Regions from separate parts of the Homo sapiens genome. Here all the other regions are linked to region 2. Evidence: fine-mapped QTL for protein levels in blood plasma. A gene starts in region 2. Each other region holds a variant in brackets. All regions are shown on one strand. Distances are between the middles of the regions.

Evidence for each region. PIP is the chance, under the fine-mapping model, that this variant and not a neighbour inherited with it causes the effect. Protein levels are from antibody-based Olink assays in UK Biobank. Linkage for the fine-mapping came from a reference panel and not from the study's own genotypes, which makes the PIPs less certain.
Region 1: its variant is fine-mapped to the plasma level of the CEMIP2 protein (UK Biobank, PIP 0.98). The variant lies in the coding sequence of CEMIP2. If it changes the protein, the assay may bind it differently, which can mimic a change of level.
Region 3: its variant is fine-mapped to the plasma level of the CEMIP2 protein (UK Biobank, PIP above 0.99).

The regions. Positions count from the first base shown.
Region 1 is chr9:71,715,440-71,720,771 of GRCh38, reverse strand. It overlaps CEMIP2 (cell migration inducing hyaluronidase 2), which reads left to right. Exons shown (of 24, transcript NM_013390.3): 13 at 2,693-2,824; 14 at 4,220-4,255. Among named protein-coding and RNA genes, the nearest start is that of CEMIP2, 50 kb to the left of the region's middle. The variant C/T (reference allele first, on the strand shown) is at 2,718.
Region 2 is chr9:71,767,502-71,772,517 of GRCh38, reverse strand. It overlaps CEMIP2 (cell migration inducing hyaluronidase 2), which reads left to right and starts at 4,005. Exons shown (of 24, transcript NM_013390.3): 1 at 4,005-4,161. RefSeq lists enhancers at 2,984-3,665, 3,666-4,347 and a silencer at 3,241-3,910.
Region 3 is chr9:71,635,908-71,641,239 of GRCh38, reverse strand. No RefSeq gene overlaps it. Among named protein-coding and RNA genes, the nearest start is that of CEMIP2, 130 kb to the left of the region's middle. The variant T/C (reference allele first, on the strand shown) is at 3,116.

The sequences.
Region 1 (5,332 bases), 52 kb after region 2:
ACTGAACTAGTGTTTAGACTATGCTCATATATATATTCATGCAATTTAGACATGGTAAAAATGATAAAAACTAGCATAAATGAGTAATAAACCAGCTCATATATTAAACACCAGGCTTAGAAGATCCAGAAGATATTTAATCTGTTCATCAAAGAGGAAGCTGACTGAACAGTTAATCAGGGCCGGGCGTGATGGCTCAGGCTTGTAATCCCAGCACTTTGGGAAGCCAAGGCGGGTGGATCACCTGAGATCAGGAGTTCAAGACCAGCCTGGCCAACACGGTGAAGCCCCATCTCTTCTAAAAATACAAAAAATTAGCTGGGCATGATGGCAGATATCTGTAATCTGAGCTACTCAGGAGACTGAGGCAGGAGAATCACTTGAACCCTGGAGGTGGAGGTTGCAGTGAGCTGAGAACATGCCACTGCGCTCTAGCCTGAGCAAAAAGGCAAGACTCCATCTCAAAAAAACAAACAAAAAAACCTGTTAATCACATAAGCCTTTCCTTGTGTCTTCAAGACGTGAAAATATAGGAATCCAAAGATGGAAAATTTTAACTGAAGAAAGCTCTTGGTTTGAAATTAGGAAATTTAATCTACAAGAGTGAAAGGGCATTAGAACCACCTAGTACATTTAAAGCAGAGGACAATTAAGAGACAGTTGAGAAGTGTGCTGAAAACTCAATGATGATAATAAGAAAATCGGGAAAAAGTAACTATTGTCTATATGCCAAGTGGGAAAGAAGATGGAAATAAAGGGTATCAAAGCAAGTGGTCAGTTACTGATTACTTTTTTTCTCCCTGTACATGCCTGGGCACTGTGGGGGTGTCGTGATTGATTTATATTGATAGGAAGTTCAGAGAAGTTGAGATGGTTACAGCAGAGAATCAGATGCTGCCTTATAGTACTCTTTTTTTTTTTTTTTTTTTGCTTTCGTTTAGAACAGTATGTCTCCGTTCCGGAACTCTTCCATCTGCTTACTATTATGTAATGACTACAAAGCTGTTTGGCAGGAACTACAATGCCAGAGAGTAGATGTTGGCTTAGAGTCAAACTTTTTACCTCTTAAGTCAGAGCTAGTTAGGGTAAAGGGACTTGGGCCATATAATCTAAAGATGGATATGACACTCTTTATCTTCGCAGCTACTACCCCAGTTTATACCACACATGCATCTGTCTGAAACACATGAAGATCCTTCTGACTGGTCTCCTTAGAGTCCATTCTCTATAATCCATTCTCCAAATAGCAATCAGTGATCTCTTAAAAGAACAAAAAAGAAATTTGATCACATCCCTTCCTTGATTCCATGCTTCCATTGACTTCCCATTGCATTTCCAATGGAGACCCAGATCTTTACCTAGCCCTTGCCCTCCTCTCTATTCTGTCTCCCTTGCTTCTTTCTCTCCAGCAAACTTCCTTGCTGTTCCTGAACATGCTAAGCTCACTCATGCCTAAGGACATTTGCACTTGCTATTTTCTCTCGATAGCTGCCTCTGCCATCATATCCATTTAGTGAGCACCTACTGTGTGCCAACAGCTGTGGTATTAGCATTAGGCAAATGATGTTTCCTCACTGGTTGAAAATCTCTACCTGTTGAATTGGTTTCTGAAAAGCTGTGATTTCTTTTTTTCTTCCGTTCGTTTTGTAAGATTAAGACAGAAATGATTAAAAAAAAATAGGTGGCCTTATGGGGCCATTTGAGTATTTGAATATCATGTATTTGAGTATTTGAGCATCATGGGGCCGTTTGACTATTTGAGTTGTTATAGTGGACAGTTTTTGACACCAACTGTTTTTACCTTTTCAGTAAGGTCCTTATAACTGTTTTAGAGAGAAGAAAAAGAAAAGGTGAAGTTCAGTATTTATAATAAATATGTTAATTAAATACAGTCTGGCTGGGTGCGGTGGCTCACACTTATAATCTCAGCACTTTGGGAGGCTGAGGTGGGTGGATCACCTGAGGTCAGGAGTTCGAGACCAGCCTGGCCAACATGGGGAGACCTTGTCTCTGCTAAAAATACAAAACTTAGGTGGGTGTGGCGATGGATGCCTGTAATCCCAGCTACTCAGAAGGCTGAAGCAGGAGAAATGCTTGAACCCGGGAAGCAGAGGTTGCAGTGAGCCAAGATTGCGCCACTGCACTCCAGCCTGGGTGACAGAGTGAGACTCTGTCTCAAAAAAAGAAAATATTAAAAAATACAGTCTATTTTAAATTTAGGCATTTTAATGATATTGAACCCAGTTTTGTCTATATCTAAACATTTAACCAGCATACAACTCAAATTATACTCTAGTTCACATATATGTATGTTGAAATATATTATTAATTTATTAAATAAGTTTATATTGGTAACATGTACCTTAAGGATTTGTAAACACACATGACATACTTCCTGATCTGGGTTTTTTTGGAAATGATTTTTATGCAATAATATTCTGCAGTGTCCATTTTAATTGATTTTTCAAAAACAAACTAAGAAGATGTAAAAGCAGTTGGTTCTCTGGAAACTTGTGGTTAAATAAATGTAATTTCTTCTTTGAATGTTTAAAATGTAAGTAAGTTGTATCTTAAGAATTTTTCATTTGTTTTGGTCAAATTTAAATTCTGCTTCTTGACACTTAAACTTATAACTAGCTAATTCCTATGGCTTTTATGTTATATTTTTTAAAATTCTTTTTTTAACCCCTAGATTTCGACCTCATCAGGATGCAAAC[C/T]CCGAAAAACCACGTGTTGCTGCTCTAATTGACAGGCTCATTGCTTTTAAAAATAATGATAATGGAGCTTGGGTCAGAGGAGGAGATATTATCGTTCAAAATTCAGCGTGGGTATTCTCTACCAAGTTATTATATGATGACACTGATGTATTATTTTTCAGATTTTTTTTAAAGCCAGTAGCATGAAAGCACAGTGATGATTCTTGGAATCATATTATTATTATTAAGACAGGACAAGCTCTGAGGAAGTATGCTAGAGTTAAAAGACCACAAATGTTTGAAGTTGTCTCATTCTGGTGCTTTTATTGGAACAGAACTTATCCGGTGACATGAGAGTTTTTGATGAAATTGAACAGAAACCGGGAATTTAACTTTATATAACAAGCATGGTCTATGTCAGAGCGCTAAATAAAACTACCTGGATCTTTTCCCTTCCTCTTGAAAACTCCTTAGTTTTTCTGATGCTCTTCTATTGCCATTCAAAATAAAAGCTTTATAATTCCAACTCAGTAAATCTGTTGACTTATATCTTAACATGACTTGAGGCAGTAAGTATCTCACTTTTTTTCCCATTTGTATAATTTTAGGAGTGGTCTCATGCATGTTGAGCTAAGATTTAGTGTTCAACAGTCTAGAAAAATGTGTGTGTGTATTTTTTTTTCTGGCACTGAAATTAGCTTCTTGGCATTTCACATCATTTCTGAGTTTTTTCATCCAAAAAACTGATACTGTGTTGAATCTGTAGAAATGGCTTCAGAATCATATACCACAGTCTAGTTGTTTTTAAAACATAGTTATAAAAATAATAATTATAGCTAATACTTTGATACACTGCTTACTGTTTGCCAGGCACTGTTCCTAACATTAGAAATTATTATTTTTTGAGACAGGGTCTTGCCCTGTCACCCAGGCTAGAGTTCAGTGGTGCAATCATAGCTCACTGCAGCCTCAACTTTCTATGCTCAAGCAAACCTCTCACCTTAGCCTCCCGAGTAGCTGGGACCACAGGCATGTGCCACAACGCCCTGCTAACTTTTAAATTTTTTGTGGAGACAGAGTGTCCCTGTGTTGCCCATGCTGGTCTTGACTTCCTGGGCTCAAGCGATTCTCCTGCCTCAGCCTCCCAAAGTGTTGGGATTACAGGCATGAGCCACCATACCTTGCCAACACTAGAAATTATTTAGTATGTTTAATACTCTCAAGAATCCTATGAGGAAGGTTATATTTTCATTTCAACTTACAGATGGGAAAAGTGAGAGATAGAGGTTGAGTAGGTTGCCAAAAGTCACACAGCTAATAATTGACAAAGCCCGGATTTGAACTGGGTGCCCTCACTGCAGATTCTGTGCTCCTAGTTATTGTGAAATCAAATTTTTGTGTGGTCATGTAGAGAGTAAATATTGGGACCTTTTGGATTTCATGATAATTAAATATTGAGAGAATTACCTCTTTTTACATAATATGGTAAATTAAAATGTTCTTCATTCTCTCTTCTTTTACAGATTTGCAGATAATGGAATAGGACTGACCTTTGCCAGGTTTGTAATTGCTTAAAAATACTTACTTATTTTAAAGCTTTAAAATAACCCTTGATTTTTTTTTCTGATAATACACAGGAATGTTTTATTATTTTTTTTAACATAAAAAAAATTAGCAACCTCTTCCTGATGCCACTAGAGGGCCAAAAATACATTTTTTTTTTTCTGGATTAATTGAATTCATAGCAAAGTACTAGGTTAATATAGCTGGAATTTCACAGAAGGATAATTTCTGCTTAGAAGAAAACACTTGCGATTTAGACTAAAGTTTTTAAAAAGTAGGGGAAAAAAGAGGAAGGGAGTAAAAGTAGGGAGAAAATTAAAAAACTAATATTTGCTTTCTTAGAAGCTGCTCTAATTTAGCAAGTTTAGTTCTTTAAGAACTAAACTTTTTGTTCTGTATGTTTTTCTACAGATAATAGTCATTCTAGTTGTCATGTTAAATATGCTTGTCATTTAATTCTTATATTCAGGACAAGTTTGTTCTCCTCATTCTCAGTGTTATTGCTTGAGACTAGAGCAATCAATTATTGCTGCTAAATTAAAGTTTGTTTATATATAATTTGTAAATCATTTATTAATTCATATGAGGGCTGGACATACCGGCTCACACCTGTAATCTCAGCAGTTTGGGAGGCCAAGACAGGAGGATCGCTCAAAGCCAGGAGTTTGAGACCAGCCTGAGCAACATAGCAAGACCCTGTCTCTACCAAAAATAAAAAAATTAACCTTAACCAGGCATAGTGGCATGCCTGTAATCTTAGCTACTCTGGAGGCTGAGATGGCAGTATCCTGTGAGCTCGAGTTCAAGGTTGCTGCTCCAGCCTGGCTGACAGAATGAGACCCTGTCTCTTTAAAAAAAAAAAAGTATATATATATATATATATATATCTTAAGAGGGATATATGTATGTATATATATATTAGGCTATAAGTAGGTATAGGTATTTTTATAGTTTAAAAGCAATTTCAAGGCTGAGTGTGATGGCTCATAACTATAATCCCAGCATTTTGGGAGGCTAAAACAGGATGATCACTTGAGGCCAAGAGTTTAAGACCAGCATGGGCCACATAGCAA
Region 2 (5,016 bases):
CTCACCTCCAATGCTGGGGATTACAATTCAGCATGAAATTTGGGTGGGGACACAGATCCACACCATATCAGTGAGTGACATGGAGATGCACTGCCCAGATTTGCTTGCAAAGAAGGACTTGCTGCCGAGCTCTGGGTGCTGTCAGCAACTGGCCCTTTTGGAGACTGCCTCAGCTGCAGGGTCGCCTTGACCAAGGTCATGTCACGTCCCAGGATGAACGACATCCAATGACTGATTCAGGAGGGTATCTAATGGTCCAGTCATTTAGGCTCAATAATTCCAATGGGCCATCTCTCAGATCCCCCAGTGGGATCAATGAAGGCCATTGGGTACACCCCAGCTACTCCCTTTGCCCATGCTGCTTCCTGCCTGTCCCCCACAGGTGAAACATCTTGTCAGTGTCTCAGAGCCTGCTTCCCTGAGAACTCAATCTGTGACATCAGTCCCATTGATCAGAGAAGTCTGTGTCCTCTTACTTTGTTGGTTTCCTTCATAGCTTCCTTTCACATCAGTTTCCTTTGATTTTTTTTTTTTTTGAGACGGAGTCTCCCTCTTTTGCCCAGTCTGGAGTGCAATGATGAGGTCTTGGCTCACTTCAACGTCTGCCTCCCAGGTTCAAGCAATTCTCCCGCCTCAGCCTCCCGAGTAGCTGGGACTACAGGTGCGTGCCACCATGCCCGGCTAATTTTTGTATTTTTAGTAGAGGTGGGGTTTCACCATGCTGGCCAGGCTGGTCTTGAACTCCTGACCTCAGGTGATCCGCCTGCCTTGGCCTCCCAAAGTGCTGGGATTACAGGCTTAAGCCACCGTGCCCGGCCTTTCCTTTGATTTTTTATGTTCCAGATAAATATCTAAAAACAAAAGTTTATACAATTCTCAAAGATAGGCCACACACAGATTCAATCCCCCTACCCTTTTTTTTTTAGTTAACAGACTATATTTTAGAGCAATTTTAGGTTCACAACAAAATTGAGCGCAAGTGTAAAGAGGTCTCCTACACCCCTGTTCCCCACTAGCCCACTCCACTATCAATCAACATCCATTTCCCTTGGTTTGGGCAATAAATACAGATTGTGGAAATAAATAAGTCCTTTTTAAAACCAAAAATTTTATTAGACTAATGTATATAAATTTTTAATTGCTTGTTTTGTTTTGTTTTGTTTTTTTGAGATGAAGTCTCGCTCTGTAGCCCAGGCTGGAGTGCAGTGGCTCGATCTTGGCTCACTGCAAGCTCCACCTCCCGGGTTTACGGCATTCTCCTGCCTCAGCCTCCCGAGTAGCTGGGACTACAGGCGCCTGCCACCACACCTGGCTAATTTTTTGTGTGTTTTTTTTTAGTAGAGATGGGGTTTCACCATGTTAGCCAGGATGGTCTCTATCTTCTGATCTTGTGATCCACCTTCCTTAGCCTCCCAAAGTGCTGGGATTACAGGCGTGAGCCACCGCGCCTGGCCTAATTGCTATTTTTAACATTTGAGTGGTTTGCAGACTTGATTCCAAGAGGTTCTTACTGTGTGGCCTTGGGAAGACCCTTTAAATTTTCAAGTCCTACTGTCCCATCTTTAAAACGGAAATAATAATTAGTGGGAGGATTTAATTAGACAACATATCCCATAACATATCCTAACTCCAAGCAAAGTGCCTGGCACTTAATAAGGATTCAAAAAATGGATATTTGTAATATAAAGTTGGCCCAGCACAGGCCTCCTATGCTGCAACATATCACCCAAACTCAGTGTAGCTTACAACTGAAGTTTATTCTTTCACACTTCTGGAAGCAGGAGACTGCGCTCAGTTTCACTGGGCCAAAATCAAGGTGTCAGCAGGATCTTGCTCACTTCAGAGTTTCTAGGGGAGAATCCTTGCCTCTGTGCTGGCATTCCTTGCCTTGTGGAGGCATCGCTTCAATCTCTGCCTCCACAGTGGCCAGCCCTCCTCTGTGTGTGCTAACCACCCCCTTTCCCCTTATAAAAGTACATGTGACTGCAGTTAGGACCCATCTTGATCATCCAGAATAATCTCCCCAACTCAAGAAGACCCTTAATTGAATCACATATGCGAAGGCCCTGCTTCTGTCTATGTAAGGTAATATGCACAAGTTCCAGGACTTAGAACCTGTTATCTCTGGGGAGGGAACATTTTTCAGCCTAGCACACGGGTGACACAGTTTCTATCTTTATTAAGCACAATCCAAAACACCTTTGGACCATGAAAACAGTCTTTTGTCCCTTCCATCTTGTTATTCAAAACTATGTTCCTTATTTTAAAAACCTTTCCTCCCTGCCTATCCCAGAAGGGACAGCGGCTCTCAAAGGCAGCTGGGTGAAGTTTCTGTAAGATCTCAGCACTAGCTCGCGCTGCTGTTTTGGAGGCATCTTTCCAAGGCTTTAATTAATTAGAGGATGCATTCTAGCCCTGTTTCCCAAACTTACATATTCCCGATACCTCTGATTCAGTAGATTGCGCGACGTCTGGCAATCCAATTTTTTCTAAGTGCCCCAGGGGATTCTTATCATCAGCCAAGATTTGGAAACAGTAATTTCTTATACAAAGTCCTGAACTAATACCCTTGAAATAGGGGATTCCCCTTCACTGCCGGGTGTGTCGCGGTTACAGGACTGAGTTTGTTGAGGGAGGAGGAATGAACAACCCTGAAAACTAAACTATCCTACCTTGTATATTATTCACTGAAAGAGTTTCCTGGAGGGAAAACTTCCAATTCCAATTAAATCGAGGATGACGACGGCCCGGATTTGGCAGTCCTGCAGCTGTCACTAGCTCGGGACCTCGTGCGTCTGAGTGATCCAGCCCGGGCCGCGCCCTCACCCAGAGCCAAGGCTGTGAGAGCAGCTCCAGCGAGGGGGCAGGGTGGCGGCGGCAGGGCTGCTTCAGGGCCGGTGCCGGTGTCCTCAGAGCGGCGTTTTGGCACTGGGGTGGGCCGGGGCGTGGCTTTCGGCGCCACCTCTGCAAGCGGCCGCCACTCCAGAGTGGCGCAGGTAGGGGGCGTGGGAAGACCTAAGTATATTTATTCCGGCCTGCGAGCGGGATGCTGGGGTTGCTCCAAGGGACCAGAAGAGCTGCCCTGTGTCCCAGAGCAGGCTGGTTCTTCTGACAGCGCTGAGAACCTGGCGCTCGCGCCTGGCCAGGTAGGGGCTGTGACTGGACGCTCAGAACATTTGTGGGAGTGTGGAAATCTCTTTACGGGTGATGGGGCTCAAAGTCTGACGCAGCCGAGGGTTGATGGGGTGCAGTCACGCTCAGCCAGGGGACTTTGGGGGCGCAGTGTCAGGCTCAGCCAGGGAGTGACAGGCGCAGTACCAGCCTTATCTGGGGGTGCTGGAGGCACAGGCTCCGGTTCGGCCAGGCGGGTGTGCGCGCCCAGGAAGGGTAGGAGCCTGCAGCCGCAGCGGGGGGCGCTGGCTGGGGCTCTGCCCCGCCGGCAGTGCGCTCGGGCGCTGTTCCAGCGCGCGGCAGCGAGTGGCGCTGAGCCTCCGCTTTCGCAGCTCGCGGGGAGCGGGGCCGGCGGGAGGGGCCGGGCGGGGCCACCGCCTCCTCTGATGGCAGGCTCCTCCTCTCCCTCCGCCTCCCTCGCTCTCCACCGCCCGCCCGCCCGCCCGCCCAATCCACAGTTCCCGGCCCAGCCGAGCCGGGCTGCTTGTCTGGCCGGCGGAGGCTGAGCGCGACCCTAGCAAGCCGCGGCGCCCGCCGACCAGGGACAAGAGCGACTCCTGGGACCCCACTCTGCCCCGCGCCGCCGCCTCCTCCCCTGTTGTCGCGGGGACGCTCAGGCCCGCGCCGCCCGGGCCACGATTCTCCTCCTCTTTCTCCCGGAGGGGAAGGAACGGAGAAAGCCGAGCGGCGGCTCCGGGAGAGAGCGAGCCGAGGCCCCTGCCCCCGAGGCTCGGGGCAGGAGGAGGAGGAGGAGGAGGAGGCGGAGGCGGAGGGAAGTGCGCGTCACTCTCGGGAGGAGAGTATTTCACCTCCAGGCAGAGGCTGCGGCTGCCAGTTGAGTACGAGCGGCAGCTGCGGGCGCCGGCAATCGAGTGGCTTCCTGGCCATGGAGAGGAGATCTGGACCCGAGGACGCCAGGGACTCCTCTCCGTCTCCCTGGACCGCTGTGTAGGCACCTGAGTTAACGGACGCTAAGCGGGGTAGGGGAAGGTAAGAAGCGACTCGGTCACCCGCCCCCCCACCCCGCTCCACCTCGTTTGCTGCCCTCGGGGGCCACTGCGGGGACGCAGACCCGGGTCTCGCCCACCTTTTCTGCTCCCGGCGGCCTGGCCGGCTCCGGCGTTGGGCATTTCTGCCGAAAAGGAAAACGTCCTCCCGCCCTTCCCCCGTGCGCCTCCTTTCCCGGTTTCATCTCTGGATTGGGACTGACCCGACTCCCCAGGAGTCAGTCCTCTCTTCTTAAGAAAGGGTCCTCGGGAACGGTGTCTTGATTTCTTTCTCTCCACTCTCTCTTTTCATTACGTTTACGGGGAAGGGAACAATGGACCTTTCAAAGTCGGTGCGAACAGCCTTAAACTTTCTGGAGAGGGATGGGGTGAGGGGATAAACCCCACAGTAAGCCGATTACAGTGAAAGGTTGATGGAATGTGCTTTGCAGTCCGGGCTTCAGTGCGCGCGCGCTTGTGCGTTTGGGGTCATCTTTGTCTCCTTACAATTCCCCTGGGTTGGTGGGTCCTCCGCCCTCCGCCCCCTGCCTCTCTGTTAGCTGAGGTAAGGTGAGGCTTTAAAATCGTGTACAGCTTCCTTTAAATCTGGGGAATAGCCTTAGCCCTGGACCCTATTCCCAGCTTTTCTCTGCAGAGTTGGGAGATCCTGGTAAAGGAGGGGGGCCCTCTCTGTGAGGACCCAGAGTGCTGCTGTTAATAGCACTAGTGGCTACACCCTTAGCGATAAAACCAAGGTCCTGAATTCCCTGGATGCTCTCTGCTGAGGGTTGATGAGTGTCACCAGACTTCGACCTGGAGCGGAAACAGCTCACTTGAATTCTCCGCAGGTTAGGAAAAC
Region 3 (5,332 bases), 130 kb after region 2:
ACCTCAGCCTCCTGAGTCGCTGGGACAACAGGTGTGCACCACCACACCCAGCTAATTTTTGTAGGGTTTTTGTGTGTGTGTGTGTGTGTGTGTGTAGGGACAGGGTTTCAACATGTTGCCCATGCTGGTCTCAAACTCCTGTGCTCAAACCATCTGCTTGACTCGGCCTCCCAAAACGCTAGGATTACAGGCATAAACCACCACTGCAAATGGCCAGGAATGTCTTTTAATTTTGCTTTCTAAACTTGTTCTGTTGTTAAATTCAAGTACAATAAAAAATAAATAAGGTTTGGGGAAAAATGCATTTGAAAAAATACAATTAAATCTTACATTTTAAAACACAGCATATAGAATATATCCCATTTTATATTTTTTACTCTATCTATCCCCCTTCATGTTGACATATATTAATATAAAAGAGAGATTACAAAGAGACAAGGGATGATTATCTCTGGGTTGTGGGAGTTCTGGGGCTGTTTTCATAATTAAAAAATATTTTATTGCTTAAATTTTTAAAAAAGGAGCATGTGCCACTTTTATAAAATCAACAAAGTAAAGAAATAGTGAATAAAAGATGAAAAGTAAACAGTATTTGTGTAGAGAATACACTCTTTCAAGAAGCTGCTGTGAGGAAGAGAATTGAGAGAATTCAAATTAAGGAAATTCTCTCCAAAGCTTTGCCTCCTTGCTTCTTGTTGAAGAAGGGAGGTACTGGGATATAACTGAATGCTGATGAGATTGATTCAGAAGCAAGGATGTGTACATATGGCATATTCAGAAAAGAAAAAATGATCTATAGTGCAAGAATCCTTCCTGAGAAGGGGAGAGTGGGTGGTTTCACAGGGCCCATTGCAAACTAGTGTGTTAAGAGGTGGGAGAGAGGGGAAAGGAGAATATGGGTGTGGGCAGGTGCAGACGGGTATGTAGATTTCGAACCAGTGGTAGAAAGTTGAAAGGTTTAATAGCTGATTACTTGTATTGTCTCAGTGAAATTGGAGACAAATCATTACTTGAGAATGGGTGGTGGGCTGGGTGTGGTGGCTCACGCCTGTAACCCCAGCACTTTGGTAGGCCAAGGCGAGAGGATCACTTGAGCTCATGAGTTTGAGACCAGCCCAGGCAACATAGAGGGGCCCTGTCTCTAAAAAAAATATATAAAAAACCAAATTAGCCAGGAGTGATGGTGTGTGCTTGTAGTCTCAGCTACTCAGGAGGCTAAGGTGGGAGGATCACTTGAGCCTGGGAGGTTAAGGCTGCAGTGAGCCGTGATAGCACCACTGCACTCTGGCCTGGGTAATAAAATGAGATTTTGTCTGAGAGAGAGAGAGAGAGAGAGAGAGAGAGAGAGAGAGAGAGAGAGATAATAGGTAGTGGGAATTTTGAGGAAATTGCAAAAAGTATGAAAGGGTAGAAAATGTACTATACTACTGTAGACATATAATAAGATTAGTGGACACTGTTGAGGGCTTAGTTGAGATTGCTGATTGTAAATATAAAGTGACAGCAATCTGTATGTTTCAATGATATTTCTCCAGCCTTGCTCAGCTGTTTGGGTGCAGGTGTGGAGAAAGGGGTTGGTTGAGCTCACTCATGATAGGTGCTCTGCTCAGAGTGTGTGAAACAATGAGAAGATGGTTCAAGGGGAGTTCAGAAATTTGCAGGATGAGGATTGTAATGGAATCTAACATGGATGAAGAGAGAAGTGAAGAAGCTCTGATGAGTGAGAAATCTGTGAGTTGAAGAGGTGTAATCTGTGAGTTGAAGAGGATGACAAATTTGAAGAAATTTTGTCCCCAGGGCATGAGCTGTATGTCTTCCATTCAAATACAGAGAAAGAAGACTGGCCAGAGTATTCATATTAAAGTTCTAGTCCCAGCTCCTCTGGGATGAATAGTTTTGTGGTTTGGCATAAGCCTTTCACCTGGGACTCAGTTTCCTTATCTGTAAATAAAAGGCTTGACTTGGATCAGTATATCTCAAATTTCAGGGCACACACAAATTAATTGAGTATCTTGTTAAAATGCAGATTTTGATGCAGTAGGTCTTGGGTGGGGTCTGGGGTTTTGTATTTATAATAAGCTTCCACATGATTCCTGTGCTGCTGGTCCATGGACCATACTTTGAGTAGCAAGGAACAGATAAATTCTATAGGCTTCAAAATTCTGATTATAAATCTTGGACCTTGAACTACGTTTTCACCTCCTCCTTGTCTTCTTTTTTTTTGAGCTTTGTCAATTCATCTTGAAACCAAATCTTGGGACACTTCTTTTGATTTCCCTTAACTGGGCAGGAAGTAAATAGAGAAAGATGCAAACCCTGCAGAATGACCAACACCCAGTAACGGAAACAGAGGGTTCTGATGACGTCTTACAGCTTGTGCCTGGGTGGGGGTAAATGGTACTGCCTTTTCCCAGGCATGGTGTGTCGAACAGGAACGTACTATCAGGCAGGAAATGGCTCCAATACAAACAGGGACACCAGAGATCAGGCTAGACGAGAGACCGATCACAGCAAATGGCATACTACAGACAGCTACTCAGATCAATTTCCTTCCTCTGTCATGTCAAAAGGTTTTGCTGCGTCAAGATTCCTTTGCCTAAAAAACATATGTTCCCAGTCTAATATATTTAAAGCTGATCACCACAAATCTACTCAGGCAACTTTAGGTTTCATTTTATCTTGAGGCTAGAGCCTACTGGAAGATCATCTGGTAATGACTTAGAGAAACCCACTTAAACTGTTCCCATATTGAATGTTTCCCATATGTAATGTTTACATTTCAAAAGGTCTCGACTATTAGAATGTGTTTTTCTGGGCTGAACATGTTTTTCACAGGCAATAAACTCATGTTTCAATTATTAGAAAAATAGTAAGTGCTTTAGCAGGCTGAATTTGATATATTGGATCCAAAAGCAGAATTTATTATAAGGAGAAATCGCTGAAAGAAATGAACATAAGATGTTTGTAACAGTCATAACTATTTGAGGACAGTTTTTGTTTAATGATAGCGATGGTAGGAAATGCTGAGGATGAGCAATTTAGGGAAGAGCCAGAATCAACGTTTCCTTTCAGGATCTGGTTCAATGGAGGAGGAAATCATTCCGAGAAATACTTA[T/C]CAGCTTGATATCACACACAAAACTGACCATAGGCCAAGTTTAGAAAGGACTGTGAAAGGCACACTCAGGGTCTGAATATCAACTTCCAGCCTTTCATCTGGTGGGCAACCTGCTTTCTTAGAGAGGGAGCTCTGCCACCCTGAGACTGAAGAAGGGGTTGATATCGTTTAATAGCCCCTTCTTGCTTTCCAAAGGTCAGTTGGCCCCACATTTGAGGATGGCAAAAAAAAAAAAAAAAAAAAAAAAAAAAAAAAAAAGAAGAGAGAGAGAGAGCAAAAAAGAGCCATCTTATCTAAGGTCTGCCTGTTAGGTTTTCTTTAAATATTCTGACTCCATCCAAGAAATGTCTTGGAATGTATTTTACATTAATCTAAGCCATCTTTATCTCCAGGAAATGATTGGGTCTCACAGATGAAAGTAAGGGTGTTTATTGCTAGCAGCCATTTGCAGTGGAGAGAGCAATCTACTGAACTGTGAAAAGAGCAGTCACAAAAGTCCATTTCCACAGGAGAAGAACACTGTGCACATAAACACGAATGAACTCAATAAATGCAAATGAACTCTCTGCTTGCTCTCCTCCCTCACTTCTTACTGGGCCTCCATACATACTATTGAATTCACAGGCCCTGAAATAGATGACAGCATTGAGTAATTAAGCTGAAATATCACACTAGGTCACTTTAATTATAAAGCCAGAGCTCATTAATGGATGGAAACATGGAAGCAGGAATTGGAATAACCTTGCTTAAAATGCATTAAGTTATCATTTTGCAAAGCCAAGAAATTTCAAGGATTTTCACAATAGGCATTGTGGAGATTTTTTTTCTAAAGGGCTGGGTAGGGGTATGAATGGATTATAAGACTGCAAATTGCTTTGAATAAAGTAGAGGTTTTTTTTTTTTTTTTTTTTTTTTTTTTTAATAGAAGGAGTTTCTACTACATGTAGCAAATTAAATTCCAGATGTTATATCACTACAAAATCTCTACCAGATGTCCAAACTCATGGTGGCTGGGATGTTTATTGCAAGTAAGGCATTAAGCACCTGTTCTACAGAGACCTCCCCTTACCTTTTCATCTGTACTAGCACGTTAATCATGCAGGAGCGATGAAATATTTAGTCCTCACTGGATAATTAAAGAGGCCAGGAAAAATTCTAAAACTGTTAATTACTCTAAATGCCATTTAAGTAAATGACTACAGTGCTCCTCTTGGGATATTTCTGAAGACTTATCAAGAACACTTTCAAAATATGAGATTCCATTTTTGGAAGCTAATTCAAGGTGGAAAAAGGACTTCAGACCAAATAATCTAACCTAAAGGACAGTTATCCACATTTAGCATATGTCCTGGTTTGAAAAAAAAAAGCAGCCCCAATTGCTGCTATAAAATATCTCATTTGCTCAAGAGTCACTTATGGCAGAACCTTCAGTTTTAGAAGCCTCTGTCTTTTCTGTTGCATAACGTAAATGAACACTGATCTGTAAGCACATTGCCAGTCAGTGCGGCGGCACTCCCAGGCTGTCGGAGGTGGACCCTTAGACAAGTCACTTCTCTCTTTGGTGTCATACTTCAATCTGAATGTAAATTTGAATTCTACAGTTTAAGATCTGTGTTAAAAATAAGTTAGTTATGATTACAATCATTGCTACTTTTGAGTGAATGCTGAAATTTCCACTAAGTCAATCAGAATTTAACCAATTTCTGGCATATGTAATGATATTGTCTCTGTAGCTTGCTGTTTGATAGGGAGGTTGAGCAAGAGGAAGTAAATAAGGAGGCTTTCTTTGAGGCTCATACTACCATGTCATCTGTCCTTCACACATTCTCTCTTCTTATCTACAGTCGCTTTAGATGGCAAGACAAATTACCTTTTTATGATCTTCTTTTGCCTTCTGAGACCTGCCCTTATGAAGGAATTAGCCTGAATTTCTTTAAAAATTTTTTAAAAGATCTTATTTTTTTTCAGAGCTGCTTTAGGTTCACAACAAAATCAAGCAGAAAGTTCACCTTCACACATGCACAGTCTTCCCTACTATCAACATTCTGCACCAGCGGGGTGCATTTGTTACAATCGATGAACCTACCTATCATTACATTTTCCAGAAACTGGTTAAATTCTGATTGATTTAGTGGAAATTTCAGCATTCACTCAAAAGTAGCAATGATTGTAATCATAACTAACTTATTTTTAACATAGATCTTAAACCGTAGAACT